Linked DNA regions of Homo sapiens. The protein of the gene in region 5 purifies or fractionates together with the protein of the main gene of each other region. This does not show direct contact. Each region holds a gene or a part of one and is shown on either strand. Other genes may lie near its edges.

Evidence for each region.
Region 1: the proteins of CTNNA3 (region 5) and CDH4 purify together in Homo sapiens (affinity purification with mass spectrometry; 2 studies listed by BioGRID and IntAct, with this or other methods). This does not show direct contact.
Region 2: the proteins of CTNNA3 (region 5) and PKP4 purify together in Homo sapiens (affinity purification with mass spectrometry; 2 studies listed by BioGRID and IntAct, with this or other methods). This does not show direct contact.
Region 3: the proteins of CTNNA3 (region 5) and FAM162A purify together in Homo sapiens (affinity purification with mass spectrometry; 2 studies listed by BioGRID and IntAct, with this or other methods). This does not show direct contact.
Region 4: the proteins of CTNNA3 (region 5) and VMA21 purify together in Homo sapiens (affinity purification with mass spectrometry; 2 studies listed by BioGRID and IntAct, with this or other methods). This does not show direct contact.
Region 6: the proteins of CTNNA3 (region 5) and MYCBP2 purify together in Homo sapiens (affinity purification with mass spectrometry; 2 studies listed by BioGRID and IntAct, with this or other methods). This does not show direct contact.
Region 7: the proteins of CTNNA3 (region 5) and CDH3 purify together in Homo sapiens (affinity purification with mass spectrometry; 2 studies listed by BioGRID and IntAct, with this or other methods). This does not show direct contact.

Annotation. Positions count from the first base shown.
Region 1 is NC_000020.11:61,919,472-61,924,036, forward strand, and holds part of CDH4 (cadherin-4 isoform 1 preproprotein), read left to right. Parts: intron 1-3,979; coding exon 3,980-4,233; intron 4,234-4,565. UniProt on the Homo sapiens protein: Cadherins are calcium-dependent cell adhesion proteins. They preferentially interact with themselves in a homophilic manner in connecting cells; cadherins may thus contribute to the sorting of heterogeneous cell types.
Region 2 is NC_000002.12:158,678,988-158,682,541, forward strand, and holds the end of PKP4 (plakophilin-4), read left to right. Parts: intron 1-258; exon of another isoform or gene 259-402; intron 403-1,441; coding exon 1,442-1,690; 3' UTR 1,691-2,442; downstream 2,443-3,554. UniProt on the Homo sapiens protein: Plays a role as a regulator of Rho activity during cytokinesis. May play a role in junctional plaques.
Region 3 is NC_000003.12:122,404,211-122,408,775, forward strand, and holds part of FAM162A (protein FAM162A), read left to right. Parts: intron 1-47; coding exon 48-153; intron 154-3,070; coding exon 3,071-3,179; intron 3,180-4,565. UniProt on the Homo sapiens protein: Proposed to be involved in regulation of apoptosis; the exact mechanism may differ between cell types/tissues.
Region 4 is NC_000023.11:151,403,706-151,408,270, forward strand, and holds part of VMA21 (vacuolar ATPase assembly integral membrane protein VMA21), read left to right. Parts: coding exon 1-35; intron 36-1,210; coding exon 1,211-1,353; 3' UTR 1,354-4,565. UniProt on the Homo sapiens protein: Required for the assembly of the V0 complex of the vacuolar ATPase (V-ATPase) in the endoplasmic reticulum.
Region 5 is NC_000010.11:67,219,970-67,224,534, reverse strand, and holds part of CTNNA3 (catenin alpha-3), read left to right. Parts: intron 1-4,565. UniProt on the Homo sapiens protein: May be involved in formation of stretch-resistant cell-cell adhesion complexes.
Region 6 is NC_000013.11:77,092,735-77,097,299, reverse strand, and holds part of MYCBP2 (E3 ubiquitin-protein ligase MYCBP2), read left to right. Parts: intron 1-818; coding exon 819-988; intron 989-1,697; coding exon 1,698-1,942; intron 1,943-3,967; coding exon 3,968-4,135; intron 4,136-4,565. UniProt on the Homo sapiens protein: Atypical E3 ubiquitin-protein ligase which specifically mediates ubiquitination of threonine and serine residues on target proteins, instead of ubiquitinating lysine residues.
Region 7 is NC_000016.10:68,675,796-68,680,360, forward strand, and holds part of CDH3 (cadherin-3 isoform 1 preproprotein), read left to right. Parts: intron 1-589; coding exon 590-675; intron 676-2,338; coding exon 2,339-2,482; intron 2,483-2,705; coding exon 2,706-2,861; intron 2,862-2,966; coding exon 2,967-3,111; intron 3,112-4,003; coding exon 4,004-4,179; intron 4,180-4,565. UniProt on the Homo sapiens protein: Cadherins are calcium-dependent cell adhesion proteins. They preferentially interact with themselves in a homophilic manner in connecting cells; cadherins may thus contribute to the sorting of heterogeneous cell types.

The DNA.
Region 1 (4,565 bases), on a different chromosome or scaffold from region 5:
AAACTGGCCTTTTCCGCTCCACTGTAGACAGTGCCTGGCCTGCCTGCCTGCAGGTGGTTCACGAGGGGTGGGAACGTGGGGACATCACATCAGTGGCGGGACATGGTGCCCTCATGCTTCTTGGGGAAAGCTGATTGATTCCTCCAGCAGATAAGTTCCTCTCTAAGTGGAAATGTCTTACACTGTTTATCATGAAAGTTTCCAGGCATTCCTAGAAGTAGGAGGAACCTGCATAATTGCGTGGAAGCGCTGTGTCATGATGATTGCGTGGAAGCATGTCATGGTTGCGTGGAAGCGTGGTGTCGCGGTGATTGCATGGAAGCGTGTTGTGATTGTGTGGAAGTGTGTCGTGATTGCATGGAAGCGTGTGATTGTGTGGAAGCATGGTGTCGCGGTGATTGCATGGAAGCTTGTGATTGTGTGGAAGCATGGTATCGTGATTATGTGGAAGCGTGGTGTCACGGTGATTGCGTGGAAGCGTGTTGTGATTGTGTGGAAGCGTGGTATCGCGGTGATTGCATGGAAGTGTGGTGTCACAGTGATTGCGTGGAAGCGTGTCGTGATTGTGTGGAAGCATGGTATCGTGATTGTGTGGAAGCGTGGTGTCACGGTGATTGCGTGGAAGCATGTTGTGATTGGAAGCGTGTCACGGTGATTGCGTGGAAGCGTGGTTTTGTGATTGCATGGAAGCATGGCGTCACAGTGACTGCGTGGAAGCGTGGTGTCATGGTGACTGCGTGGAAGCATGGTGTCACGGTGATTGCATGGAAGCGTGGTGTCACAGTGATTGCATGGAAGCGTGTCATGATTGTGTGGAAGCATGGTATCGTGATTGTGTGGAAGCGTGGTGTGATTGTGTGGAAGCGTGGTGTCATAGTGATTGCATGGAAGCGTGTCGTGATTGGAAGCGTGGTGTCGCGGTGATTGTGTGGAAGTGTGGTGTGATTGCGTGGAAGCGTGTCTTGGTGATTGCATGGAAATGTGTGATTGCATGGAAGCGCAGTGTCACGGTGATTGTGTGGAAGCGTGTCATGGTGATTATGTGGAAGTGTGGTGTCGTGATGATTGCATGGAAGCACCGTGTCATGGTGATTGTGTGGAAATGTGGTGTGATTGCGTGGAAGCGTGGTGTCACAGTGATTGCATGGAAGTGTGGTGTCACAGTGATTGCATGGAAGCGTGGTGTCACAGTGACTGCATGGAAGCGTGGTGTCGTGATGATTGCATGGAAGCGTGGTGTCACGGTGATTGCATGGAAGCGTGGTGTGGTGATTGCATGGAAGCATGGTGTCACAGTAATTGCATGGAAGCGTGGTATCATGGTGATTGCGTGGAAGCGTGGTGTCGTGATTGCATGGAAACGTGGTGTGATTGCATGGAAGCATGGTGTCACAGTAATTGCATGGAAGTGTGGTGTCATGGTGATTGCATGGAAGCGTGGTGTCGTGGTGATTGCATGGAAGCATGGTGTCACAGTAATTGCATGGAAGCATGTCATGGTGATTGCGTGGAAGTGTGGTGTCGTGATTGCATGGAAGCGTTGTGTCACAGTAATTGCATGGAAGCGTGTCATGGTGATTGCGTGGAAGCGTGGTGTCGTGATTGCATGGAAGCATTGTGTCACAGTAATTGCATGGAAGCGTGGTGTCACGGTGATTGTGTGGAAGCGTGGTGTCATGATTGCATGGAAGCGTGGTGTCACAGTGATTGCATGGAAGCGTGGTGTCGTGATTGCATGGAAGCACTGTGTCACAGTAATTGCATGGAAGCATGGTGTCACGGTGATTGCGTGGAAGCGTGGTGTCACAGTGATTGCATGGAAGCGTGGTGTCATGGTGATTGCATGGAAGCATGGTGTTGTGTAAATCTCACAGTGATAGGCACGCTGCTGCGTGGCAATCTGCACTTTTTGCAGGAGTACGTTTTTTTAATTACCAGACCTCATGATCCTCCGCACCTAAATCTGTCAGAATGCATCACCCTCAAAAGCACATTTTGGGCAGGGTGCAGTGGCCCACGCCTGTCATCCCAGCACTTTGGGAGGCCGAGGCAGGCGGATCACCTGAGGTCAGAAGTTCAAGACCAGCCTGGTCAACATAGTGAAACCTCGTCTCTACTAAAAATATAAAAATTAGCCAGGCATGGTGGCGGGCACCTGTAATCCCAGCTACTGGGGAGGCTGAGGCAGGAGAATCACTTGAAGCCAGGAGGCAGAGGTTGCAGTGAGCCGAGATCATGCCACTGCACTCCAGCCTGGCAATGGAGGAAGACTCTGTCAAAAAAAAAAAAAAAAAAAAATCAAAGCTCTATGATAAGAAATAGAGAGCAAACTCACAAACTCACACTCCCAGCTGTGACCCTGACCCCATTCCTTCCCTCTGATAACGATGATCATTTTTATTAGTTTTTGGTTTATCCTCACGATGTTTCTTTCTGCAAATATGAGCAAATACATATACAAATCATATTTTTCTCTCTCTTTTGCACAAAAGGTGCACACTATGTGGGTTGCTTTTTTGCCCACCAGTAGATCCTGGAAAGCTCTCCTCTTCAGTACACAGAGGGTGTTCTCTTTCCTCTTTACGGCTGCAAGTGTCTCCCCATGCAGATGTACTGCAGGCTGTGCAGCCCACCATTGCTGATGGATGTTTGGGTCATTTCCAGCATATTGTCTCGACAGATACTACGCAATGAATACTCTTATGCATATGTTACTTTGCACGTATCTAAGCAGAATATTTTAATGCAATTGAGACACAATGTGTTGTGTTTTTTTCCAGTGAAACTGTTGCAAGCTTTGCCATTGAACGTCTCAGGGCCCCAAGCTTTTTCCATGTAACTTCCCTCCCTCCCCAAAATGTGTAGGAAAGGCTTGAGCGAAGCTTTTCTGATAATACAGCATCACTGCAGAACCGTAGCTCTAGCGTTTATCAGCCAGGGTCCTGGTGCACCAGAAGGGCACCAAAGAATTGTGTGAATGCAGGGGCCAAGTGCAGCAGTGATGGGAACTGCAGACCTGGCATGGTTCTGTCCGGGGCTGCGGTTACAAGTCACCACAAACCAGGTGGGTTACAACAATAGAACTGTCTTCTGTTCCAGCTCTGCGAGTCAGAGACATAAAATCAAGGTGCCGGCAGGAACGGTCTCGCTTAGGAGGTTGTAGAGGAGAACCCACTGCCTGCCTCTCTCCCGTTTCTTGGCCTGTAGCTGCCTCACTCCAGACTGCACCTCTGTCGCCACATGGCTCCTCCCTGCACCTGTGTGTCTCAAATATCCCTCTCCCTTTCTCTCTGTTTTGAAATTTTGGAGAGCCTTGCTCTGTCACCCAGGCTAGAGTGCAATGGTGTGATCACAGTGCACCACAGCCTCAAACTCCTGGGCTCAAGCGATCCTCCCACCTTAGCGTCCTGAAGCCCTGGGATTACAGGCGTGCATGACCGCACCCAGCCCTGCCTGTCTGTTATGAGGGCCTCTGTCTTTAACTTACATGTACAAAGACGCTATTTCCAAATAAGGGCTCATTCACAGGTCCCAGGTGGACATGTCTTTTGGGGGCCACCATCTGACCCTCCGCAACTGGTGAGGCCCCGCTGGCCAACAACGTCAGGAGCCTTCCCCACACTAGGCTCAAAGGAGGAAGGTAGGGACGGGGTTACCAGGCCAGGAAGAGGGGCCGCCCAGCGGGGGCTGCAGCCCCCCCAGGAGGAGCCCAGCTTCTGCCTCAGCCCAGCATGGGACAGGGGCTGGGAGGCCTAGACCTCCTCCCTCTCTCCTCCCATCGGCCAAACCCAGCAGGAAGCCAGAAGATAAGGGTGCCTGGGAGATGGGACCCTTTGGGGCCTCCTGGCTAAAGAGCAGAGCAGAGAAGAGCTGGACATGGCTCAGGGAGGGGTGGAGACCAACCTTCCCATGTGTCCCCCCATGCCCACTCCCACGGGAGCTGTGCCAGGTCACTCCCAGCCCTGATCTGTTGTTCCAGGCAGTCGACTACGAGCTCAACAGAGCTTTCATGCTGACAGTGATGGTGTCCAACCAGGCGCCCCTGGCCAGCGGAATCCAGATGTCCTTCCAGTCCACGGCAGGGGTGACCATCTCCATCATGGACATCAACGAGGCTCCCTACTTCCCCTCAAACCACAAGCTGATCCGCCTGGAGGAGGGCGTGCCCCCCGGCACCGTGCTGACCACGTTTTCAGCTGTGGACCCTGACCGGTTCATGCAGCAGGCTGTGAGGTGGGTGCACAGGACATGCCTCGTCCCTGCCTGCAGCTTCCCAGGTTCCATACAGAAGGGTCCAGAAATACCCCATGAAACCCACAGCCCAGAATTCCCCCAGATGGGTGGTCGGGGGCATCTCCAACCTAAGGCGTCCTTCCAGGAGGGAGCCGCAGCCCCTTAGTCCCAGATAGCCAGATGCAGCCCCTGATCAATCGTGAGTGTTGTGACCGGTGCTTACTCATTCAGCACTGTCTAGACACAGGCCGGCCCGATCCTGGCCACACTCTCATAGCTATAAGACTCAGCAACCTCCTGCCCTCTCTGCTCCTCAGCGTCCTTGTCCGTTC
Region 2 (3,554 bases), on a different chromosome or scaffold from region 5:
GGAAGGTTGGTAAGCACACTTCATGCCCTCATCACATTGTTCTCTTTTGTGTATACCTCGTTCTCCATCTCGCCCCTCCCTGTCCAAGCTCCACAATTTAAAAACACTGAGTCCATCACCAGGTCTGTTTGTCTCAGTGGTCAAGGTGGACTCAGCCCCTGCCGGGATGGACCTCACTGTGGGAGAGTGGGACTGGCGGTTATAACACACCCAGGCTTTGCTTTCATGAAGGGCCTGCAGTCAGTCTCAGGTCCTTACCAGTGCCATGGCGAACTTGGACCATCTGGTCTCTCCTCTTCCCTTTCAATGACACAGAGCAGCTGGAGTTTCCTAAAACAAGACTGTATCCTGTCCTTCAGATAAGGATGTGTTCTAAGACCTCTCCTTCTCGTCATCTTTTCTCTGTAGGTGGAAGAAAAAGAACTTTCCAAGTTATTCATAATTTATGCTATGGTTTTTTAGTCAGGAAAAATAGACCAGAATCATAACTCTGGCTTGAAAGGAGAATTTAGCTCTGAAATCCTTATAATGTTAGAATGCATTGAGTTCCAGGACATGACATTGGTTTCTATGTGGTAAATTTGTTACATCTTACTAAGTAGGGGGATTTGGGCATAATCAAGAACATAGACATAATAACCATCACAATTTGAAGAAATTAGTGTGAGGTCAAAGCTAAGACTGAACAAAAGGAAATGGAGAGCAGTGTGCCCTGTGTGGGTGCCCACGTGTGCCTGGTCTTGCCCACTTACAGATGGACTTAGCCCTGGCTTGGGGAAGCCTTTTCCTCTAGAACCATATTTGCTCACGTGTGTCTCCTAATTTTACTATTCTTCTGCCTTGAGATTGCTTATTCCTTTAATATTACAACTTACAGCAGAGTTTCCAAAGTGTGACTGTTGTTCACCTAGCCACATACATCTTTTAAAATGTAGGGGTGGACTCCATCTTCATATCTGAAGTAAATGTTCTAAAAGATGGTTCGGTAATTATACAATTATCCAAGGCCCAGAAACCCAGTCCTTGACTAAATTAGTGATGTGCTAATAATTCCCCTGTGTCAAACCAAATATCAAGACCATCCTCTCATTCGGCATGCCCAGGTAACAGGTGCCTCCACAGCTGAGCACACAGCAGGGCCTCCAGTAAAGAGGGGAGGTTTCTGGGGCCACCTGCCCTGAGATCTCAGGCTTTCTTGAGGCACCTGCTTCTCTAGAGGTCTTAGGACAGGAAACTCAGCAGCCTGCCTGAGAATGCAGCTTAAAATCCTTAGAGTCCAATAGTAAACGCATAGTGTGCACCAGAAACAGCTTTTAACCTTAAACTGCAAATATTGAATATTGCTTTAAAAATATGAAGCAGGAAGCCCACATTAATTTTCCTAACACATGTATTTTTAAAAAATTGCTTTTATTTATTTGCCTTTTCATTTTGTCAACAGCATCAACAGCTGTATTATAGTCAAGATGACTCCAACAGAAAGAACTTTGATGCATACAGATTGTATTTGCAGTCTCCTCATAGCTATGAAGATCCTTATTTTGATGACCGAGTTCACTTTCCAGCTTCTACTGATTACTCAACACAGTATGGACTGAAATCGACCACAAATTATGTAGACTTTTATTCCACTAAACGACCTTCTTATAGAGCAGAACAGTACCCAGGGTCCCCAGACTCATGGGTGTAGCATCAAGATGCCCAACAGAGGAACTCTTTCTTTCTAACCTTGTTCAGATTGAGGTGAAAAGTCCATCTTGCTGATTTGATGATTGAAATGTGAAAGTGAAGTGGAAGGAATGAATGAAGTGTGTTTTTTTTTTCTTTTTTGAGGAATTATCAGGGAAGTGAGGAAATGTTTGGGAGAGGACTTTCTAAGCTCTATTTAGGTGTTAGATCTAATTACTTATAGATTCTGTAGTCTGGTGAAGGTGTGGGTGACGTGATGAGAGGTTTGAGAAATGGGTGAAATGAAATGGGGGATATGTAGGTCAAATCAAATTAAAGATGATTTTTTTAATGTGAATAAAGTTATGTTCTGATAGTTTGTACAGAAAAAATAAAATGGATGCCCATGTTTTATTGCTATTACTAAATGTCAAGATTGTATGCTATTATGTCTTGTAAATTTCTTTTGTTGGTGTAAATATGGAAATGCCACATTGGTTAAGTGCCATCATTTGTAATGCAATGTGTCACTTGAAAAGAGATTTGAAGAAACTGACAACTTCAAAAACAAATGAGAAGCCCAAGGAACTGTGAGCAATTAAAAGCAAACCGCGACACCCTTTGTCTCCACCACACATAGTGTACTTTGGAAGCACAACGTCCAGGCTGGTACCGCAGCGCCATGCCCATTCCTCGCCTCATTCATAGGACACTTCACTGCCATTTTCTATTCACATAAAAGAAAAATAAATGTGGAAATTTCATCCTTGGAAATGTGTTCTCTATTCTTTTTAAATTTTCTGTATGTATATGGAAAAGCAGATTTAATAAACACAAATCTAACTGCATGTTGGAAACAGCTTAAATATATCCAACTATTTTGGACTTTTCCTAGTTTTATATATACTTTGTGAGATGGACCACACCAAAGAATTAAGCTATGAACTTTCCTTCTCTGACAATCTAGGTATTTTTATTTCTTGGAATCTATTTCAAATCTAGTACCCTTCACAGTTTTATCATGTTTTTCTATATGGCAGCCCGGCCATAACTAAATTGATATAACTAAATTGATACCTTTTTTAGGCATCATTTTTAAGAACTCAGTAACTTCATAAGAACAGTGGTTGGGCATTTATTTGGTTGGCACCAATATAATAAAACAAATTCTAAATTATGATCTTGTTGAGTAATTCCTGGATTAGGAATGGGGTAGGGGAAAGAAGCCCCACAGTAGGGTAGGCAGAGGTCCCCATAGCACCACACAGCATTACTTGGGAGCTTTTCTCCATCTGTGGAGGCAATGAGGGACACCAGGCCCAAAGTCTGAGGCCTTCTCAGGTCTTGCAGTTTCCACCCTTCAGTCCTAGCTCCTGGATCTTTGTTGGTGTAAATATGGAAATGCCACATTGGTTAAGTGCCATCATGGAAAACTAGGAACTAGTTTACCTGTAGCTGTACTAGGAAAACTAGGAACTAACGCCCATGGCAAGTCAAACCCAGAAGTGTTGTCTTAGCTCAATATACCCTGCAAGTGTAATACAAATCGCAGATTAAAACATTTGTACTTATATTTGTGAGTATATGGAAAGACACCCAAGAGAAAACTGCGTTTTCTTGCCGAATGGACAGCAGCCCAAGATGAGCATCCAAAGTGAAATGGAAATACCAGTGCGAGCATGAAAGTTCCTAAGATCTGCAAGCCGGGAGCCCTTCTGGGGTGCCTTCTGAAGAACACTCGAGCCAGCTTGCGGAGTCGACTGCCCAGCTACTGAGCCCTGGCTGCCTCATACCTGGCGGAGCTCAGCAGACAGCCCTTGTTAGATGGCAGAGGTCGCCAGATGTTCCTGAGGAACTGGCATCAGGACTTCTGGGACGTAACCACT
Region 3 (4,565 bases), on a different chromosome or scaffold from region 5:
GTTATAATCTCAAACACATAAAATTTCTTGTCTGGTTTTTCTCATAGGCACTTACAACAGAGTGCCTTTACACAAACCTACGGATTGGCAGAAAAAGATCCTCATATGGTCAGGTCGCTTCAAAAAGGAAGATGAAATCCCAGAGACTGTCTCGTGAGTGCTGAATTTAGTATTACAAGCAGCTTTCATTTCTCACTGATCTAAGGGAAAAGCAATGCCTCTGAGTTCCAACTGTTTAAAACTTTTCAACCAAATTTGAAAACATTTTTCACTTTTCCAAATGTTTTATCTTTGGTAAGTACTTGGAATATAAACAATGCTAGAAAACCTGTGTCTTATCATTGTTAAGTTACACAGTGACTGGTGAAGAACTGTCAGGTACTCTGAAGTCAATTGATTATTTGATTTCATCCCCTGGCTACAGAAGTGTGACTTTTTTAAAGTTTGTTTTTAATCTAGGTATATAAATTAAGTACCATTGACAATGACTGTATTCCCCCAAATCCACTTAAGTACTCAACCTTAGGTGTAAAAGTATTTAATTGCAATATTCTGGAATTCAGGAAAGAGTGCTTCCTGTCACCAACTTCCTTAAACCTAAGGGAAGGGATCTTGGCTGGGATCATGGAACTTTTTCAGAGTTTGTAGATGATGAGTGCAGGTTCCTCCAACCCAGTTTCTCAACTCAGTACTATTGATATTTGGGGCTTGATAATGCTTTGTGGCAGGGGGGTGTCCTATTTGTTGGAAGATGTTTGGCAGCATCCCCGGCTTCTGCCCCCTACATGCCCGTAGCATTGCGGCAGTGCTGACAACCAGAAATGTCTCCAGACACTGCCAAATGTCCAAGGGGCACGAGCGGGGTGGGAATCTCCCCTGGTTGAGAACCAGTGCCCTAGCCTCATGTTAAAGACCCTGACTGGCTGGCATCTTGGCTAAAAAGAGATTCTGAGAAATAGATGTCATCTCCTCTGTGAGGCATCATCCTATTCAGGGACAGGGACTTCAGACAAAGCTCGTGGAAGTTCCCTGTCAGCAAGAAACTATTCCTGGATCTTCTGGTCTCTGGTTTCAAGTCATGATTGAAAAAGATCTGAGCTCATTCAGGATTTCTTTCCCAGGGAAATATGTAGTATTTACTTTCTGTTTACAACAGCTTTAATAGAGCTTTTCTGCTTCTGCCAGTCAAATTGATAGCACATTACTTTAACTAGAATTATTTCAGCAGGAAAGCCCTGGTTTTTCTTAGCTCAAGTCATGTATTCTTCTGGGAAATAAGAGAATACTGGAAATAACAGTGACATCAGGTTCTTGCCTATGCCCTAATTCTTCCTATACCAGCAGAAAATAAGCTGGTAGACACCCATGGCCTTAACAGATGCTGTATAGGCTTTGCTATAGAACACCTTCCTCAGTCTGCCTAATAGTTGGTTCCAAGATCCCCTCAGGCCCAAAATACTACCTCACGAATCACTCTGGAAGGGTCTTTTCTGGGCCTGGGCAGCCATTTGTCCTTGTGCTGGTAGTTCTGAACAGGCACTGCTTAACTTGCCCATTCCTATTACTCCCTATGGAATGGATTACTTTTCATGAGGATCATGGCACTTCAAATCCCATAAAATACCGTCAACATGGGAAGTCAGTTTGTGGTTAGTGGAATCTCAGGTGCTCCTAACTGACCAATTTGACAGTCCTTAGCAGTTGTCTTGGGTTCCTGCCAGCCTGCAGGCCCAGCTTAAGTGCCTGGAGAACCCCGTCCACATGCTGCCTCACAGGTCCCAGCTCCTACATCACATTGTACATGGCTTCATCATCTTCCTCCTTCCACCTGCAACATCCCAGACTCTTTGCCTCCTTCCAAGCATTTTTAAAGTACTCCCCTCCCCAATTTTAAAAGTAATATATGTTAAATATCTCAGGGGAAAGAAAGCACTTCAATCCCATCATCTAGAGATAATCACTTCCTATTTACACATCTACTGAGAAGGCCATAAGTTAATCCTGGGCCCCATAAGGGCTCCACATCCCCTGCCTTGAGGTTCTGCCAGACACCGAGGTAACAGAATCGTGACCACCAGGTGTGGCAATGCATGCCTATAGCCCCGGCTGCTCAGGAGGCTGAGGCAGGAGGATCGCTTCAGTCTAAGATTTTGAGTCAGCAACATGGTGAGACCCCATCTCTTTAAATAAAGTAAATTAAAAATAGAACCATGACTCACTGCCTACTTGCAAAATCACCAAGGTAGATTGGCCTTTAGACTCTTCTATATTAAGCCTCTTAGGTTTCACACAAGAATGATGAACCAACCATCAACTTTTTTTTAAGGCACATGGGTCTGTATTCAGTAGATAGGTTAGAAGAGCTGCACTTTGGCACTTGCCAAAGACCACAATATCAAGTTCACTGTCACTCAATTTTAGCAAAACATTTGTTTAAAAAGATAAATATTGAGGAGCATTGCTTAAAGGATCTTCCTACTATTTTAGATATTCTCAAATCTATTCTGGGTTCAAGACAGAGAGCAAAAAGCTGGGTATATGGAGCACATTGGTTAACTTTCTCCAATGTTTGATCATTCTGAATTGTGCTTTGTGTTGAAACATATGAAGCTTATTGTAGTATCTGTTGTCGAGATGTTTTCAGACGATGACTACATCACATAATGTCTTCTTAAGAACCTCAGGGAGAAATGACTGTTTCACTTCTAGCATTTATAGGCTGCTTGGAAACCTGAGAGCCAAAATTGGGGTCCACCATAGCAAGTGTAGATTAATATGCCTTGCCCATTTTTTTTTTTTGGCTTTGTTCTTGACTTCTCTTTTTGTTTTCTTCTTTTGTACTTAATTGTGTGCTATCCTGTATTTTATACATAAATGAGTTACGAAAAATGCCTCATCCTCCCCAAAGTCCTATGAGATCTCTAGGCCCTTTTTAAAGAGATCTCTAGGTCTCCCTATTTATATTTATAGACACTACTACATTTTGAATTTATACACAGCCTTTTATCCTGAGCAACTTCAGAAAGGGAAAAGTTAATAACTTTCTCTCATGATCTCATTGTATTACTAGGTTGGAGATGCTTGATGCTGCAAAGAACAAGATGCGAGTGAAGATCAGCTATCTAATGATTGCCCTGACGGTGGTAGGATGCATCTTCATGGTTATTGAGGGCAAGAAGGTGAGAAGGGGTTTCTTCTCTATCCAGTATGTATGTTCTCCACCAAGAACCTAGAGTAAATCAGGGATTGACCCTTGTATTTACCCTCTGAGAAGAGGAGGCTACTTTCTACATTACATGAGAAAAGATAAGCAAAAAAATAAGACATATTGGGAACAAGCCTGGAATATCATCCTTGGGGATAGATAGCAAATCCTAACTTTGGCGTGGTGAAGAAGGACTAGATTCATTTTGTGTAATGTAAATTTAAAAAGTGTTTCTGATGACAGGTGTCATAATGTAAATTAAGAAATAGGACACTGGCATATTTAATCACCCACTGCATATTTCCAGAGTGCTCTTGGTACCCAAGTGTATTTACCCTCACCATAACTGCCTTCAGCATGGTGAGCTTTCTTAGCGGGGTTCTTTATTTGAAGCTCAGCCAGACAGGGCCATGTGTCTAAGGACCACAGCTCCTAAGCAGTACATAGGAATACAAGTCCAGAAATCTTTAGCACAGATTATAATTAATAGCTATCACTAATTGAACACTCACTGCATTCCAGGTACTTTTCTAGCTGGTATCTCATCTGAACCTCACAAAAACACTGTAAGATAAGTATTATTAGGACCTGATTTATAGATGAGGAAAACTATAGCTTAGAAAGCTTTAGTAACTTGCCCAAGGCCACATATCTCCTTAATGACGAGCCACAGTGTGAACCTAGACCCAATTCAGGTAATAGGAAAATTCCTCCCATTTATTGAGTGCTTATTATGTAACAGGCACTGTTAAGCTCACTTAATCACCCCCATAACCCTAAGAGGTAAATAGTTTTCCCAAACTCACACAGCTAACAAGTGGCAAGATAAAAATCTAGACCCAAGTTTGCAGGTTACCAAACCTCATACTATACTATCTTGCTATTAAGCCATAGTTATTTTTATATTCAGCAGCTTTGGTCAAATTCTTCTTTTAATACCATGTATAATTCTATATATCACAGCTTCCATGTGGAAAGTGATGTCTTACAACTACTTTAAGATACTAAAAAGGTCCTTCTATACACGCACTCTTAACTGACTTTCTTATCCTCAGTAATTCCAGAGTAAAAGGAAATGTACTTTTGGCTGTCTTCATTCTTGCAGTTAAATGGAAATACTGACCATTTTAGGCTGACCTCATGGGAGTACGAAGGGGCAAATGTGCTGAGCTGGGTGAAGTTCTCTTGAAAACTCTGTTCCCACCCCACTTCATTTTTTCTTGTCTCCCTCTTTGACCTCTCATGCATAGTTCTCAGATTAAAACCAGCAGAAACATGTGGACAGGACTGTGAGCTTCTAGGATTCTGAGAAATTTGCATTGCTTTTGTATACTCGATTGTACTAGCTGAGTTTAAATAC
Region 4 (4,565 bases), on a different chromosome or scaffold from region 5:
GTTATATTTCACAACTAAATCTTACATATTTGAAGGTAATCTTAGACCCATTAAAACAAGATGTTTTCCCCCAATTTAAGATTCTGTGCTTTTATGACCTCTTTATATCTTTAAACTGGGTATTCTTATTTTTTTCTTGTTTAGCTTTTCAAAAAATCATATTGCTCATAATGAGTCTTTATGAAATAACTTATTGTTTCAGCTTGACAGTTTTCCTATGGTTTTCTGTGAAATAGCTTGCAAATCCTTTCTCTTAGTACCTTTTAAAGAATAGGGGTTGGCTGACATGGGAGGAGGAATTTTGGGGGAATGGACTTTAGTGTCAGATAACGGAAGGAAGAGAGAATGAAGTCCCCTTTTTGATGTTGAAATTTTTTTTTTTTTTTTGAGACAGTTTCACTCTTGTTGCACAGGCTGGAGTGCAATGGCGCGATCTCGGCTCACCGCAACCCCCGCCTCCCATGTTCAAGCGATTCTCCTGTCTCAGCCTCCTGAGTATCTGGGATTACAGGCACCCGCCACTACACCCGACTGATTTTTGGTATTTTTAGTAGAGACGGGGTTTCGCCATGTTGGCCAGGCTGGTCTCGAACTCGTGACCTCAGGTGATCCACCCGCCTCGGCCTCCCAGAGTGCTGGGATTACAAGCGTGAGCCACCGCACCCGGCCTGAAGTCTTTATAATTATGGTTTTGTTTAAAACAATGTTTGTTTGTTTGTTTGTTTGTTTTTGAGACGGAGTCTCGCTCAGTCACCCAGGCTGGAGTGCAGTGGTGCGATCTCGGCTCGCGTCAAGCTCTGCCTCCCAGGTTCACGCCATTCTGCTGCCTCAGCCTCCCGAGTAGCTGGGACTACAGGCGCCTGCCACTACGCCTGGCTAATTTTTTTTGTATTTTTAGTAGAGACGGGGTTTCACGGTGCTAGCCAGGATGGTTTCCATCTCCTGACCTCGTGATCTGCCCGTCTTGGCCTCCCAAAGTGCTGGGATTACAGGCGTGAGCCACTGCACCCGGCCAACATAATGTTCTTAATATATAGAAGGTACTCATATCTTTTAGTGAATACTTTATTCATTACCACCCAAAATATTACTTTTTAATTGCCTGACTAGTTAAATAAATACATCATAAAAATTAGGATGCTTTGTTTTTTTTTTTTGTACTTTGGTAAATTTTGCAATAAAATGGAAACTGTTTTTTTTCTCTTGATAGGCGCCCTTGGGATGTCCAATAGGGACAGCTATTTTTACGCTGCTATTGTTGCAGTGGTCGCCGTCCATGTGGTGCTGGCCCTCTTTGTGTATGTGGCCTGGAATGAAGGCTCACGACAGTGGCGTGAAGGCAAACAGGATTAAAGTGAACATCACCTTTTTATAGCATTAAATTCATTTTTTAAAATGATAAATGCTGGAGGGGGCCATCTGATTTGAATAAAGTTGAAAGAACATGTTAAAGTCAGTCTTAAGGAGTCACGTTTGAGTATGTAAATTTTGATCTTTCTAATATGTTGGTTTGTATATTCAGTTTTAACTGTATGAATCTGATTTGCAAATGAGAATTTGGAAAAGTTAGTTACAAAGAAATATGTTAATTTAATTAGACAATACTCTGGAAGGAATTTTATCTTCTTTCAACAAAACATGTTTTATAGTATTCTGACTTACGGTTGCTTTTGAGTTTTACTCATTTGGATATATTAAGATGCACACAGTGAAGCAAATTAAACTCCACTTTACGCTGGAATGCTTTCTTTAGCATGAAAATACCAGGTCCTTGGATTTGGGATTTTAATTTCCTATGGAAAGTTGCTTAAATTGTGGACACTGGAATTAATCTGAATGTCACTGAGGAATTTCACATGAAGTGTAATCCCTAGTCAATAAGAATTATCCATTACATTATTTTATGGGAAAACTAGGCTAAATTACATCCATTCAGGTAAAAGGACCTTAGCTTACTGAAGGATCTAAAGAGCAAAGCAAAGATCTCACTACTCAAACACTCAGCCTGCTTCCTTCAAGTCCCCTTGCAGGCCAGCTTTGTGCTTTGCAGACCAACTTTTTAATGAGATACTTTGCTTCCTCATTCAACATTGAAGCTAGGCTTCAATTAAAAGGTTCGAGGAAGCTCCATTTAAAATTGTTTTTTTTACTATTTTTTAAAATTGTAGTGTATATGATAGGAATTTGCATTTAAATATGTTCATTTTTGCATATGTTAGGAGTGGAAACAATCTGGAAAACATTTTTTTTTCATCCAAAAAGTATTCTCCTTGGGCATATCTGATGGAAAAAAACCTTGATTTTATTTTCGTATCTTTAGTCTGTGTTCTTTCTAGTTATTTGGTACTAATTATGTGCAATCTAAAAACACTCCCACAAGTATTTGTTTTTTAATTATAAAATCATAGTATATGTTCTTTGTAGAAAACTGGAAAAATACATATTCAAACAGGAAAAAAAATCAAAATTCCCCATAATGTTGCCATCTAAAAATAACCTCTATTTTAGTTGATATCCCGTATTCATTTTTGAAAGCCATTCCTTAATGCTAGTTTGATACACACTAAAAGTTTAGCTTACAAGTTCAAATTCTGCCAGCTTTTCCTGACAGCTATTTGCATTTTTTTCAGATGAGTGATTATTGGCCATTTTCTTTTTCTTTTTCTTTATTTTATTTATTTATTTTTTTGAGACAGAGTTTTGCTCTGTTGCCCAGGCTGGAGTGCAGTGGTGCAATCTCGGCTCACTGCAACCTCTGCCTCCTGGGTTCAAGTGATTCTCCACCTCAGCCTCCCAAGTAGCTGGGACTACGGATGCCTGCCACCACGCCTGGCTAATTTTTTTTTGTATTTTTTTGTAGAGACGGGGTTTCACCATGTTGTCCAGGCTAATCTTGAACTTGTGACCTCAGGTGATCCACCCGCCTCGGCCTCCGAAAGTGCTGGGATTACAGGCGTGAGCTACCACGCCCGGCCTTATTGACCATTTTCTAAATAAGCACATTCTATCTTTATTCTCTTAAAATTCAAATTTTCTGTTACTGATAATCCTAATACTAGGATTCTTGCTTAAGTATGTGAAACCATTACCGATTTGTTGTTCACATTTATTTTTTATGTTGTGAAACTGGACTAAAGGAATAGAGGGATGATTAGTCATAAAAGTCAAATAGCATTTGTGTTTAACTGTTGAGAAAAGTGAAAGATCAGTATGATTATTATGGAACTGTTTTTAATTCTTGCTTAAAGACTACAATTTTAGTATAATGACATTTGAGTCTAGGGTAGTATGTGGTAGATTTCTAGATGGTCCCTAATTAAGAAGTATTGTTGTATTTAGAATTGTCCACCTAATTTCTTTTTATATAATGCCAAGGTATTTCTTGTGCTTTTGGGATCTTATGCTGTTTGTAAAATGTTACTGTCCAATGTTGGATTATTGTTTTGGTTTCAGGCATTTGCTGAATAGGTGATGATACATGGGTATTTTTCTGCAAGTATTTAAACCAGGGGCATATGCAAAGGCAGTTGTAATTTCCTCTTGGAAAAAGCGCCAAATGTTTGAAGGTTAAAATCAAATGCTAGGGTTGATATTTAGGCTTATAACAAAATAGGCTTGTTTTCAAAGCAGTTTTTTCCTAGAGTTTTAACTGTTAACTCACTAGTTTGCTGCTGTTTTTAACTATGTTAAATAACATATGGTATTTGGCAAATAGATTTATTTTTCAAAATGTCTCACTAGTTTCCTTTTACACAATGTATATACTTCAAGATGTATAGAAAGGAAAGCTACAGTTGAGCCCTTATACATGTTTTAAGGTAGAAATATGTTCCCTATTGTTTGAAAACTGATTGTAAGAATAACCTCAGTTAGGAGATATAACTTGAAGTGTCAGTCCAAACTACTGATTTAACCCTATTTACGGTAACACATTACCTTCCTCACCTCCTGTTTGGCCCTGGAGAATGTAGTCCTTTTTCTCATTTGTGTTGAGAAATGAAAAGTCTGCTGTAGAATGTATCTGATGTCATTAGTTCTTCAAATGGATACCATTGTACATATAACAGTAGAATTTGGTTTGGGGTTGTTAGTGAAAAAAAATTTAAACCTGCCATTAAAAATCCCCATGTTTCATGGAAATCTAACAGAAATACATTGTAATAATTAGAACATTTTGTTTTCTTTTTTCTTTTTTTTTTTTTCGAGACGGAGTTTTGCCCTTCTTGCCCAGGCTGGAGTGCAAGGGCGCAATCTCGGCTCGCTGCAACCTCCGCCTCCCGGGTTCAAGCAGTTCTCCTGCCTCAGCCCCCTGAGTACCTCAGATGACAGGTGCGTGCCACCACACCCGGCTAATTTTTGTATTTTTAGTAGAGACGGGGTTTCACCATGTTAGCCAGGCTAGTCTCGAACTCCTGACCTCAGGTGATCCACCCGCCTCCGCCTCCCAAAGTGCTGGGATTACAGGTATCAGCCACCGTGCCTGGCCTAATAATTGGAACATTTTCATCATGAAAATGTCATCAGCTTTGCCAAAAGAAACAACCAATTGACTTGTTTGGCGTTTG
Region 5 (4,565 bases):
GTATTTGTGGTGTCTCCCAGATTTTGCAGGAGCAGTCCGCTTCCTTCAAAGGGTCTGTGGGTCCTCCCTCATAGGGATAACTTCTACTCACTGTTTAAGATTCACCTTCTCTGAAATCCCACCACTTATGACAACTTGGATGAACCTGAAGGACATTATGCTAAGTCAAATAAGCCCGGCACAGAAAGATAAATATTGTATGATTGTATTTATATGTGGAATCTAAACAAGTCAAACTCATAGAAGCAGTTTTACCATAGTTGCCAGGGGTTGGCATGTGGGGGAAACGGGGACATATTGGTCAAAGGGTATACACTTTCAATTATAAGATGAGTAAGTTCTAGGGACCTAACTCACAGCATGGTGAAGACAGTTAATAATAATGTATTGCTTACTTGAAATTTGCTAAGAGAATAGATCTTACATGTTCTCACAGCACATACACACAAACGCAAAGGGTAACTGTGTGGTGATGGATATATTGATTAATATGATTGTAGTAATCATTACACAATGTATATGTATATGAAAGCATCATATAGTACACCTTGAATCTACACAATTTTTATTTGTTAATTGTACCTCAATAAAGCTGGAAAAAAGATTCACATTCTCTGAGAAATTTTATTTAATCCCTTCAAACTGAGAGACTGTCCTCTATGCTGTGGGTAACTCTATTTTAGTTCCCATGTAAATGTGTTTATTTGTCTCCCCTCCTGATCTTTATCTTTGCATTTCCAACATTTAGCACACTGCCTTGATGCAAAGTCGAGGCTCAGCATAGGAGAGGCTCAACATAGTACAGGTTGAAGGAATGGTTGAATTAATTAACTGATAGCTTAAAGCCCTCCACTTGTATTTTTTAAAATAATATTCCTAAATATATTTTGTTCTCTTGCCAGGGTTAAAACTCATATGTTACTTCTCTACCCACTTGCACAGACTTTAAGGTCTTTTTAAATCCCATCTGTGTGTTTCTTCGTCAGCTGGAAACATTTAATGTCTTCTTAACTTGGAAATCTCCTGTGAGCTTTCTTCTGGAGCATTTAAAAAAAGATTATAAATAAGTATCAATCCTTGAGGAGCTGAATTCTTTATACTTCTCCATCCAAAGAAATCCCTGATTAACTTTACTGTTTAATGCCTATTTTGACTTTATGTAAAATTTTAGGGTAAATGGACAAACAAGAACCTTTGAACCTATGGTATCATCAGTTAAAATAAAACAACTACAAACACCACTACCACAACATACATTTAGGAGGTGACAGTCATTAATTTCTCTTTTATCTGTGTGCCTATTTACTACATTAAGTTTATCATGCTTGATGTCCTTTGGGAGAAATGGTCATGCCTTGTCAGTTTTCCTTACATAAACTCTGCCACCTGCCCCTTTGCCCCTGTCCACTGCTGTAACGTTATATTTGTTATGTTCACTGATCTAGTCCTTTTTCGCAGGCGTCAAGGACTTGCTATTTGGGCTCATGGATTCTGTAATTGCCTTGGGCAGAGATGACAAAGCATAGGCTCCAAATTCAAAATACATTTGTATTTTTAACATTTCAAAGTCCCCATGGCATTAAAGTTACTACAATTTACCATCAGATTACACATTGCTACCATTAGAGCAAAAGAAATAATTTTAACTTTAGCTTCTTGATTATAATCTATGTTCAAGTTTTTCACCTTTCAGAAACAAACTAAACCTTGACACTGTCCTTCTAAATAAAGAAGCATAATGTATAGGTCACTTCAGAGAGAATTATGTATTAAGTTGTGATTGTACAGTAATATCAGAGAATTTGCCTTACCTTTTTCTAAATATTTATACTTTTAATTATTACTCATCTGAGGAGCTGTGCATCCTTTCTAAACATTAAACTATTTATCCTCTAAGTTACACTGATGACTGTAGGTAGAGCTTGTACAACGTTGTGGGAAATACAAAAATCACTAAGATTATCAGTACAGAAACAGTACACCAAGTTTGACAGATGTAAGGAATAAAACAATTCCGTATTCTTTCTACACCTTTTCTCTATTTTCCACTTATATTCCATTTCTGATGTGCTATGTACTCAATCTTGTGAGAGGGTCGGCAGAAGTATCATTATCCCATTTTTACAGATAGAAAGACAGACACCGAAAGAGATGAGTTACCTAGCTCACAGTGCTAATGACAGAACTAAAACTAAAACCCAGACCACATATACAAGGGGGAAATCGTAGCAAGCCAAGAAAACCATAGTGTCTTTTCTTGGGTGATTAGTGACTATGAACAGTGGGTTGATAGCTACTTCTAACTGTCCTCCCTACATTTTGTAACGAAGTTAATCTCTCCAAAGCCTGAGTGAAGTAGCAGACAGTGTTTATTTTCAGAAGGGAAGGAACTAAAAATATAGTAGCACAAGCCATTTATTAACCTCATGCAACATTATTCCCAGAGTAGCAGAGTCTTGTGAAAAGGCATAAGGTTAGCAATCAGTAGACTTAGGTTTAGATCTCTGTTCCTTTACTAGTTTCTATCTCCTTGCACCAAACACCTGTTTAGTTAAAATAGGACTAATAATAGCAGCCTCATTCCCTCAAAGACTATTGTCATGATCAGTAAGATACTGTATAGAAGCACTTTATAAGCTACATGATATTATACAAATACAAGTCCTCATTCTGTGTAGCAAATAAGAAATTTTTCCACTTTGGGAGGCCGAGGCGGGCGGATCACAAGGTCAGAAGATCGAGACCATCCTGGCTAGCATGATGAAACCCCGTCCCTATTAAAAATACAAAAAATTAGCTGGGTGTGGTGGTGGGTGCCTGTAGTCTCAGCTACTCAGGAGGCCGAGGCAGGAGAACTGCATAAACCCAGGAGGCGGAGCTTGCAGTGAGCCTAGATCGCGCCACTGTACTCCAGCCTCGGCGACAGAGCGCGACTCTGTCATAAAAAAAGAAAAAAGAAAAAAATTTTTCCTATGTAGGAAATAATGTCACATAGTTTTTAGGATAAGGGCTTGGAAGTTATACTGACGTGGGTTACAATACAAGAAATACCACCATCTAGCTCTGCCACTTGGCTAAGAAACTTAGTCTCTTGAAACCTTAGTGTTTTGAGTTTTAAAATGGGAATAATCACATCTCTCATGAGTTTTTATAAAGATTATATGAAATGTTGTATATGAAGTGAATGAACTATTGTAAATGTCCCTTGAATTAGTTTTTTTTAACTTAAGCTTTTATTTGGGAGTAATTTTAGATTTACAGAAAAGTTGCAAAGGTGGTACAGAGAGTTCCCATTTACCTTTTTTCCAGTTTTCTCCATTGTTAATGCTGTATCTTACATTTGCCACTACAAAGAAATGGATACTGATGCATTGCTATTAACTATTAATAATGGTTATTTGGATTTCAGCAGTTTTTCATGAATGTTTTTTCTGTTCCAGGATCTAATCCTCAGTACCACACTGCATTTAGTTATGTCTCCCCAATCTTCTCTGTTCTGTGACAGCTTGTCAGTCCATCTCCTGTTTTCCATGATGTTAATGGTCTTGAGGAATACTGCCCAGGTGTCATTTAGGATGTTCACCAATCTCATTTTGTTTGTTGCTTTTCTCATGATTAGACTGGAATTATGGGTTCCTGGAGGGAATACCACAGAAATGGCATACTTTTCCTGTCACAGTATATCAAGGGGTACATGATATCCATGTGATATCACTGATTATGTTAAATTTCATCACTTGGTTAAGGTAGGGCTTGCCAGATTTTTTTCTTGTATATTGAGCTAGTTCTGATCGCCTATCACTTAGACAGGGCATTCTCTTTCCTCTCTTCTCTCTGATGTAATGCTATTCATTTACATTTACTGCAAATTGTCATCTCTGAAGAAATACCTTCTCGGACCATTCAGCCTAAAGCAGCTTTTCCTTTCAAGTCAATCTCTATGACACTTCACTTTTGTGTTTTCTTCATAGCATTTATTGTCACCTGAAATCATCTCGTATATTTGTTCATCTAGTTCATTGTTTGTCTGTAGGCCCTTTCCCCCCAAAAGAAAGAAGAACAAGGTCCTTGTAGGATTTTTTCATATCTGTACACTGGAGTCCAGCACAAGGGCTAGAATATGCTAAGTGCTCAGTAACTAATTGTTGAATAAATATCAAAGAAAGAATGATATAGGATTAATTTATTAGTATTTCTGAAAAAGAAAAATAGCTGAATGGTGGGAGGTTTCATTAGTGTTCTTAACTCAATTGGTCTAATTTTAACGGAGAGGTTAAATGCAATTATCAACATCTATGGAATGAGGTAATCAGCATCCTTGTAATTCAAGCTCCCATGTAATGCACTTAATAATGTGAATGCCAGAGTATTTTAGCTACTTATAAGGATTTGACTGACAAGGACTTGACTGAATAGTAATGGATCTTTACACATCTGCTCTACGGGGACCTTTACTTATTAACTGTGTCATTGTTTATACTGCAGAATTTTTAACAGAAACTGAAAGAATGTAGAAATAATAGATGCCCTTGATTATAACTTATAGCTGACTTCTTCATGTCTAT
Region 6 (4,565 bases), on a different chromosome or scaffold from region 5:
GTTCTATGAATTTTGTCAAAGGATAGGGAATTTATAGTATCTTAGAATGTCATTTTTAAAGTACATTATCAGTACAGGGTTTTGTGAAAAACAGATAAATTCTAATATTATGATGGCCAGGTCATTTAGTGCTATTTCACTTTCATGTAGCATGTTTTAAAAAATATTATGTGTTACCCAAAGGGTGTGCCATTAATGTGTCTGTCTCACACAGCAGAAACAGTGGCATGCCCATACACACAGGGCATCTCCTTTGATTTTACTATTTTCCTGTTCAGAATTGCAAATTAAATTAGATTAGATTGATTTCTATAGGCTTTTTCCTACGGAAGTGATATTGTTTTATCAGAAGACTGCATTTTCAGTAAATGTAATGATTTCTGTAACATTGACTAATATTCCAAATTCACCTAATACAAATTTGGTTAATTTTTTTCTTTGTCTACATATTATACCTCAAATGTCTTATGAATATGTGATTTCTGAAAATATATCATTGTTATAGAACTTTTATACTTGTATTGTCTAATTTTATTGACATAATTAAGTATATCTAAATATACCTATATTCTATCTCTCTTTTAATATGCCTGATTAGAAACTAAGTATCTCTCATATTTGGGGCATCATTTAATTGATTGCTTTTTGATCAAGTAAGCTATTTTTCTGATATAGTTAATAGCCTGAAAAATAAGATATCTACTTCAGTATTTTGCTTTCTTTGAGAAGGTAAATCTGTCATTAATGTATGAGTAATAAGGATCAAACTATTAAGGACACTTGGAGTGTTAAATATTTATTTTTGGTATTGTTTCAAGGTTGTGGCCGATATGCTGGTGGACAAGGTTACAATAGCATTGGGCATTTTTGTGGAGGATGGGCTGGTAACTGTGGTGATGGTGGCATAGGAGGAAGCACTTGGTATCTGGTATGTGATCGCTGTAGAGAAAAATACCTCCGCGAAAAACAGGCTGCTGCAAGGGAGAAGGTATTTTATTCCATTTGGAGCTATACTTTTAATGATATGGATACACTGTATAAAAATACCTTGTTATAATCTTACTACATCAGATAATTCCACATAGTTGATATTAAAAGATCAGCTTTTATAATGGAAATCATATACAAATTTAATATTTGTACTAAGTCAAATGCTTTTAATTTTAAAAATTAACTATATATTGGAATAACACTAGATAACCTCTGCTACATATGCCTTATTGACAAATATTTGTTGTGTAACTCTTTATTATTAATTGTCTGTTATTCTCTCTATGGAGAGCTTTCCTTTTCACCTTCTTTCTCTTTTCCTCTTTTTTTGGCTCCTTTGTTTTCCTATTCCATATCTACTCTCTCTTTTCTTTATTCACTCTAGTGGCACCTAACTAAAAAATTTCACTGAATACACGCACTGAAATGATTTACTTTTTAAAAAAATGAATTACATTTAGATTTAACTAGTTAGGTGTTAAATTTTTCTGAAGAAGGAAAGGAAGTATAGTTTGTGTTTGATACAAAATTGTCTTGGTCAGCCCAGGATGAATATGAAATGAATGTTGTTTTTTATAATCTTATTATCTTAAAATAGCTTTACAAGTGTTTAATAATTTTTATTGGAAACTCAAAATACTTAGCTTAAGAAACTAAGGATTTTAATGTAAGTCAGAAAAGATTAGTTTGATTTTTTTCTTCGCCAGGTCAAACAATCTAGGAGAAAACCAATGCAAGTCAAGACCCCTCGTGCCTTGCCCACCATGGAAGCTCACCAGGTGATTAAAGCCAATGCACTCTTCCTGCTGTCCCTGAGCAGTGCAGCAGAACCGAGCATTCTGTGTTACCATCCTGCAAAGCCATTCCAATCTCAGTTGCCCAGTGTAAAAGAAGGCATTTCTGAGGATCTTCCTGTGAAAATGCCTTGTCTCTACCTGCAGACATTAGCTAGGTAATAAAATTTTGCTGTTGTTTTTTAATCACCTTTGGATTAACAGCGATTGTTTATTGATATCTAGGGTAGTTCGGTATTTGACCTACACTTTATTAGCTATTGTGTACTATAAACAAACTTCCAGGCATTTATTTTTTGAGTTGCCTTGACTGACATAATGACTTTATGGTAATAGGTATTTAAAAAACTATAAAAATGCTTCATCAATTTGCATTGTATTAATACACAACATGTCTTAGAAAATAAGACTATAGCTATCTTTTACTCTTTGGTAGGCTGACTTCACTCTGTTAGTGCGAAATGCTGAAGTGTAAAGAAAGTGTGTTTCCTTAGCAGTCTTTTATTTCGTAAATTATTCATTCTGTTAGCATTTAAATGAATACCAACTGGGCACCTACCAGCCTTGTGCTAGGCCCTGAATGTATGAATATAACAAAATCCTGGCTTCTATGTACTCATACTCGGATGTCAAGTCAGACATGTTAGTGAAACATTTGAAATGCCATGTGAGGAGTGCTACAATAGAAGTATGTATGTAAGATGCTGTTAGAGCATAAAAGATGGAGAGTATCTGAATCTTCCCCAGGAAATCAGAAAAGGCTTCCCAGAGGGTCTGAGCCTTTAGTAGAGTCTCAAAGGATAAATAGAAATCTGTCAGGCAAGCGACAGGAAGAAAGCGACTCTTGGAAGAATAACCCAGGTGAGTAAAGACACAAATGAAATCTCATTACACATTTCAGGAATCACGGGTTGTTAAAGGACTGGCTACTGGAGGAAATATGTGAAAGCCCGTTCAAAGTGATTGGTTCACCCAAGTAATGTCGGGCTCTGTAGCCCAGGTTAAGATTGCATTTTATCCCATGAGCAGAGGAAACAGTGGAAGAATTTTAAACAGAGAAATACATGAACTGGTTTGCAATTAAAAAATCACTGTGGAATGTGGAAGCTAATGTGGAGACTAGATAAAAGTGCATTACTGGAGATAGAAACCTGTTAGTATTCTGTTTTCATATATTGGACCTCAGTGGTGCAGCCTGTACTTTCACACATCATGCACTGACACTCCAAAAGAGCCTTTCATATACCAAAACCAAATTTTTTTCATCAGCTGACAAATGAAGGTAATCTAGATATTGCCCACTGACATGGCTTGCCGACCAACAGTTCCATTTTGGAAATTGTCCTCTTTGTGTAGCAGAGTTGTATGGTTTTTAAAATTTTGTGCTTACTATTACAATAAAATGAATAAGCAACAAAAATGAAAATATCAGACTAAGTACATTTGAGACTGAGGTGGAAATCATCAGTATGCCAAAATACAATAGATCTTTAGTGTGAATCACACCACTCAGTGGACTTAGGTTAGCAACTATTTGTTCATTTTGAAAAGGAAAGAATCAAATTGTAAAACGTGAAAAATGCTAACACAGCATAATTATAGATTTTTTTCTTTTTAGCTGTCTGGGGAATGGGCACCCCTTCCACCCTGAACCACAGAAAATTTCATATATCTAATATTTTTCAAATATGATCTTATGTATGTTCCTACCCAAAAAAGTAACTGCTTGTATTTCAGTGGTCTGTGCAAGAAATAATAAGCATGAACCAAGGCAGTGATGATAGGGAATGAGAAGAGAGAATGGCTCTGAGAGGAAACCTAATATCATGGGCTTGAAAGATGATGATGATAGAGGGCTAAGCCTACTACAACACTGGAAATATTTTAGCTTAAGCAACTGGATGGTTGGTGGGCTTATTCACCAAAACACTGGAAGATGGAAAAGTTCTCAAAAGGAAAGAAACTGAGTTCAATTTTGGATTTGAAATGTTCGTGGTACCTGGAATGTTGATGAATAAAATTATCAGACTTTTATTTTCACCTACCTACATCTACGATTATTTTAATGCTTTGCCTTTAACTATGATTTACATGTGCTGCTTTTCCTGTTATGAAAGAGATTAAAAATGGAGAGGATCTGTATTGCCATCATGCTTTAAGTTATTGGGTTTGATTTAATGCAGGCATCATCATGAAAATTTTGTGGGCTATCAAGATGACAATCTATTCCAGGATGAAATGAGATATCTACGTTCAACATCTGTACCTGCCCCGTATATATCAGTAACTCCTGATGCAAGTCCTAATGTATTTGAAGAGCCAGAGAGCAATATGAAGTCTATGCCACCAAGGTATTTTAGTTCTCTCCTGTCTGTTGAATAGCTAGTGTTTGGTGGAAGAAAGACTTTGAACTAGAAAAGAGTCCTGTAGAAGTTCTTTAATACATCTGTGAGCCAGTTTTGCTAACTGCTGGAGCAGTAAGAAAAAGCATACATGTATGACTAAGGTAAGGTCCTTGATGGGAGAGGCAGACTAGTTGGAGAGAAGAGATCAACTAGTGAAGGAATTAAAGATTACATTATATGACATTACTTAATGCTGTAGTAAATCAGAGTAGGGAAGGGTTACTTTGAGTTTTCATGGGAGCAGTGGCATTGAAAATAAATCTTAAACTTCTTGGATTATTGTTTACAGTGCCTCCTAACTTAGGTATGGTAGTATCAGAGTAAAGAGCTTCTCGGAAAGCTGAATAGAAACTTGTTACAATAATGTAATACACAA
Region 7 (4,565 bases), on a different chromosome or scaffold from region 5:
AAAAAAAAAAAAGAAAAGAAAAAAAAGTGGGGGATAATACCTACCTTGGTATCATAGTTATAGGGATGAAATTCACCTCCAGCTGGTGAATGGTGGTTACTAACTCGGAGTGCTTGTTTAAAGAGTAGCCAAGCATTGGGGATTCAGAAGGAGCGAAATGAACTGAAACAACCAAAGGTTGTCCAGGTGATCCTGTGGGCATATATATTGTGTGTAAATAGACTCTCACAGCCTTCAGAAAATCTTCTGCCTCTAGCTATGACCTTAGTCAACCCCATGTCACATGAGGCCACCTGGGGCTAATGTCCATGAATGTCTATGATCTTGGTCCTCTGGGACCAAGAACAAAGAAGAGTTTGACCCACAAACTGACCACCAGGCGATCTTCCCTCTCGAAACCAAACTTGGAAGCCTCCTCTGAAACTTGTATTAGTCACACTCCTGGTCAGAGAAAGTAAGCCAAGTCTCCCTTCTGCAGCCACTTAGCAGTCCTGGATCCAGTCAGAGGACTCTTGTCAGTCTTGTTTTCCTGGGGCAACTTCCAGAATACTCCTGCCTTCCTAATGCTCTCTCTTCCCCTTCCCCACAGTATTCATGGGCTGCCCTGGGCAAGAGCCAGCTCTGTTTAGCACTGATAATGATGACTTCACTGTGCGGAATGGCGAGACAGTCCAGGTAAAATACCATGTCCACCTGCAGGACAAAAGAAAGATGTTCTCTGTGCATGCCCAAATTGCTGGCCAGGAGCCCTTGGTTGCTGTGGCCATTGTGAGCCAAGTCAGCCCTTCAGAGGAGGTAGTGTTAGTCCTCAGCTGTCCACAGCTTGGGTGTGAGCACTGATCTAAGGGGGGTAGTGCTTGCAGCTACCCAACAGTGGTGCCTGAGGTCAGGCCAGTGGAGCCAAGAGCTGCCTTGTGAGTAATCACCCACTGTACTGAGTCCCTCGGATTCCCTCTCCCACCTTCCTTTACTTCCTTCCCTTATCATCCATGTTAACCCCAACTGAAAGCAGCTCTAAATGCAGGCCTGCCAATCCCATGAGCCTCCAGGAAGATACATCTGGGGTGCTTGGCCACACTTCGTTTTAATTTTTGAATAGCTAATATAGCCACATGGTTCAAAAATAAAAAATAATAATAAGCTATACAATAAATAATCTCCCCTTGTTTGCCTCCATTTGCCCAAAGCCCCCTTCACCCCTTCACGCAGTTAACCACTGTTCCCAGTTTCTTTCCTTCCAGAGTTTATATATAGTCTATACTTACATGTGTTACATATTTATTTATATTGTACATGTTTTTACATGTTACCTATTTCGTATATATACATATATAAAAACAGATTCTTTTCCTTATGCAAAAGCTAAGATGCTGTTCACATGTCTGCACCTTTCTTTTTCTACTTAACAGTGTATCAGCACAGCACAATGTCTACCCTCTTTCCACAGATAGCCACTATTAGTTTTTTTCTGTATTCTCCCTGACTTCATCCATGTACAAGAAAATATGACTATATGGTCTTATTTCCTACCCTTTTACACAAAAGGTGGAACAGTACCTGGCACATATTAAGCACAATGTGTTTGTTAAATAAAATGCTAAACTCTATTAAGCTGCCCTATACCTTAATCTTTCCATTTGACAGCATAAATCAAAAATCAGGCCGAATGCGGTGGCTCACGCGTGTAATCCCAGCACTTTGGGAGGCCGAGGCGGGTGGCTTGCTTGAGGTCAGGAGTTCGAGACCAGCCTGGCCAATATGGTGAAACTCTGTCTCTACTAAAAATACAAAAATTAGCTGGGCGTGGTGGCAGATGCCTGTAATCCCAGCTACTCAGGAGGCTGAGGCAGGAGAATCACTTGAACCTGGGAGGCAGAGGTTGCAGTGAGCTGAGATCGTGCCACTGCACTCCAGCCTGGGTGGCAGAGCGAGACTCCGTCTCAAAAAAAGGAAAAGAAAGAAAAAAAGATCTTTCCCTTTTGGCACATAGAGAGCATACTCATTCTTATTTTTAGAGCTGCATAGTATTCCACTAGATGGATGTGCTGTAGTATATTTCACTGGTCCTCCTGTATAAGTAAACACCGAGTTTCCCTTGCAATAGGCTCATCTAGGTCTCCTCACCCTTAACTTTTTTTTTTTTTTAATTTAACTTAGGGTCTCGCTATCTTGCCCAGGCTGCTCTGGAACTCCTGGGCTCAAGTGACCCTCCCAAAGTACTGGGATTATAGGCGTGAGCTACCATGCCCAGCCACCCTTTTAACTCTTATAGGTGAGAGGATGTTGAGCATGTCCCAGCTATTTGCACATCTGGGTTAAGGAGTTTCTCTCCTTGCAGGAAAGAAGGTCACTGAAGGAAAGGAATCCATTGAAGATCTTCCCATCCAAACGTATCTTACGAAGACACAAGAGAGATTGGGTGGTTGCTCCAATATCTGTCCCTGAAAATGGCAAGGGTCCCTTCCCCCAGAGACTGAATCAGGTACGACTGTGCCTTCTCCTGGGAAGCATTGGTGGCTCCAGGGACCCCCATCCAAAGGCCTGCATGAGATTTCTTGCTACTGAATGTGGGGGCTGAGACAGAAAAACCTCTCCTGTTCAGTGAGCAGATTCTCCTATGGCAGTGCCCCTCTTCACAGAGGACTCTTTGTCACAGTCATGGGATATTTGTTACTTTGTCAGCTGCCATTTTCTTTTCCCTCCAGCTCAAGTCTAATAAAGATAGAGACACCAAGATTTTCTACAGCATCACGGGGCCGGGGGCAGACAGCCCCCCTGAGGGTGTCTTCGCTGTAGAGAAGGAGACAGGCTGGTTGTTGTTGAATAAGCCACTGGACCGGGAGGAGATTGCCAAGTATGAGGCAAGTAGCCTTTAGTGTCTACTGTAAATGTCCCCTCAGAAGTGGGATCCTAGGCCTGGTGAGGTGGGTGGCACCGGGCTGACCCCAGAGCTGTGTACCCCACAGCTCTTTGGCCACGCTGTGTCAGAGAATGGTGCCTCAGTGGAGGACCCCATGAACATCTCCATCATCGTGACCGACCAGAATGACCACAAGCCCAAGTTTACCCAGGACACCTTCCGAGGGAGTGTCTTAGAGGGAGTCCTACCAGGTAAGAGGACTGGGAAGGGGACTGCTACGGGGCTGGGCCCACACCCTTAAATGCTAAAAGATCCCACCATACCTGATTTCCTTGGCTGTGTATCAGATTACTTGGGATCTTCTTAAAAATCCAGATTTCCCCCCTTCCATCCCAAGGTTCCTGAATAAGAATGATCCTAGAGCAGAGCTCTGGAATCTGTATATTTGAAATTTTCCCTAAAGCTTCAGATGATCAGCCAAGCTTGGGAACCACTAGCTTTGGAGCTTCAAAGACCTAGATTTGAATCTTGGCTTTGCCCTCTTTACCGGCTGTGATCCTGGGCATATTCTTGACCTCTGAGCCTCACTTCTCACATCTAAAAATGGGAATAATATCAACTTTGAAGAGTGGTGAAGATTAGAAATACCATGTGCAGACTGTTAGGTAATACAGAGCGCCTAATGCGAAGCTCTTGAGAGCATGGCAGCCACAGGGAATGCAGCAAAGACTGGAGTGTTAGAACATGGCTGATGGAGGCTGGGCGCGGTGGCCCACGCCTGGAACCCTAGAACTTCAGGAGCCTAGGCAGGCACATCACTTGAGATCAGGAGTTTAAGACCAGCTGGGCCAACATGGTGAAATCCTATCTCTACTAAAAATATTAAAAAATTAGCCGGGCGTGGTGGCGGGCACTTGTAATCCCAGCCACTCAGGAGGCTGAGGCAGGAGAATCACTTGAACCCAGGAGGCAGAGGTTGCAGTGAGTCGAGATCACACCATTGCACTCCAGCCTGGGTGATAGAGTGAGACTTCATCTCAAAAAAAAAAAAAAAAAAAAAAAAGAAAAGAAAAAAAGAGTTCCAGAAGTAGACAGGGCTGGAGTTGGAACTGGGAGGAAAAGATACTCATCCCTTCTCTCCAGGTACTTCTGTGATGCAGGTGACAGCCACGGATGAGGATGATGCCATCTACACCTACAATGGGGTGGTTGCTTACTCCATCCATAGCCAAGAACCAAAGGACCCACACGACCTCATGTTCACCATTCACCGGAGCACAGGCACCATCAGCGTCATCTCCAGTGGCCTGGACCGGGAAGTGAGTGGCCCTTAGGGAAAGTACTGCCTACCCAGACTTGCCCAGGCTGGGAACTGACTCTGAGAGCAGAAGCTCCTATCCCTGCCCACAAAGCCCAAGGCAGAACAGTGAGGACCCACGTCAGCTGGGATGGCCACTGCTGGGTTCACATGCCATGCCCCTGGTTCCTTGGGCCTGTGGCCCGCTGCCAGCCAATCTCGTTAAATCTCCTCCAGGGCTGGGAGGCAGCTGTAAAATGCCTACTTTTGGTATTTTCTGTAGGTTTTCTCATTTCCTCTCAGAGTGGCTCACTTAGTGTGCACATTACCCAAATTGGTCCCTTATGTGCCACAAAGTAGAATTAGCTCCATGGATACTGGATTTGCTGCCTGTTTCCTAATTGATAC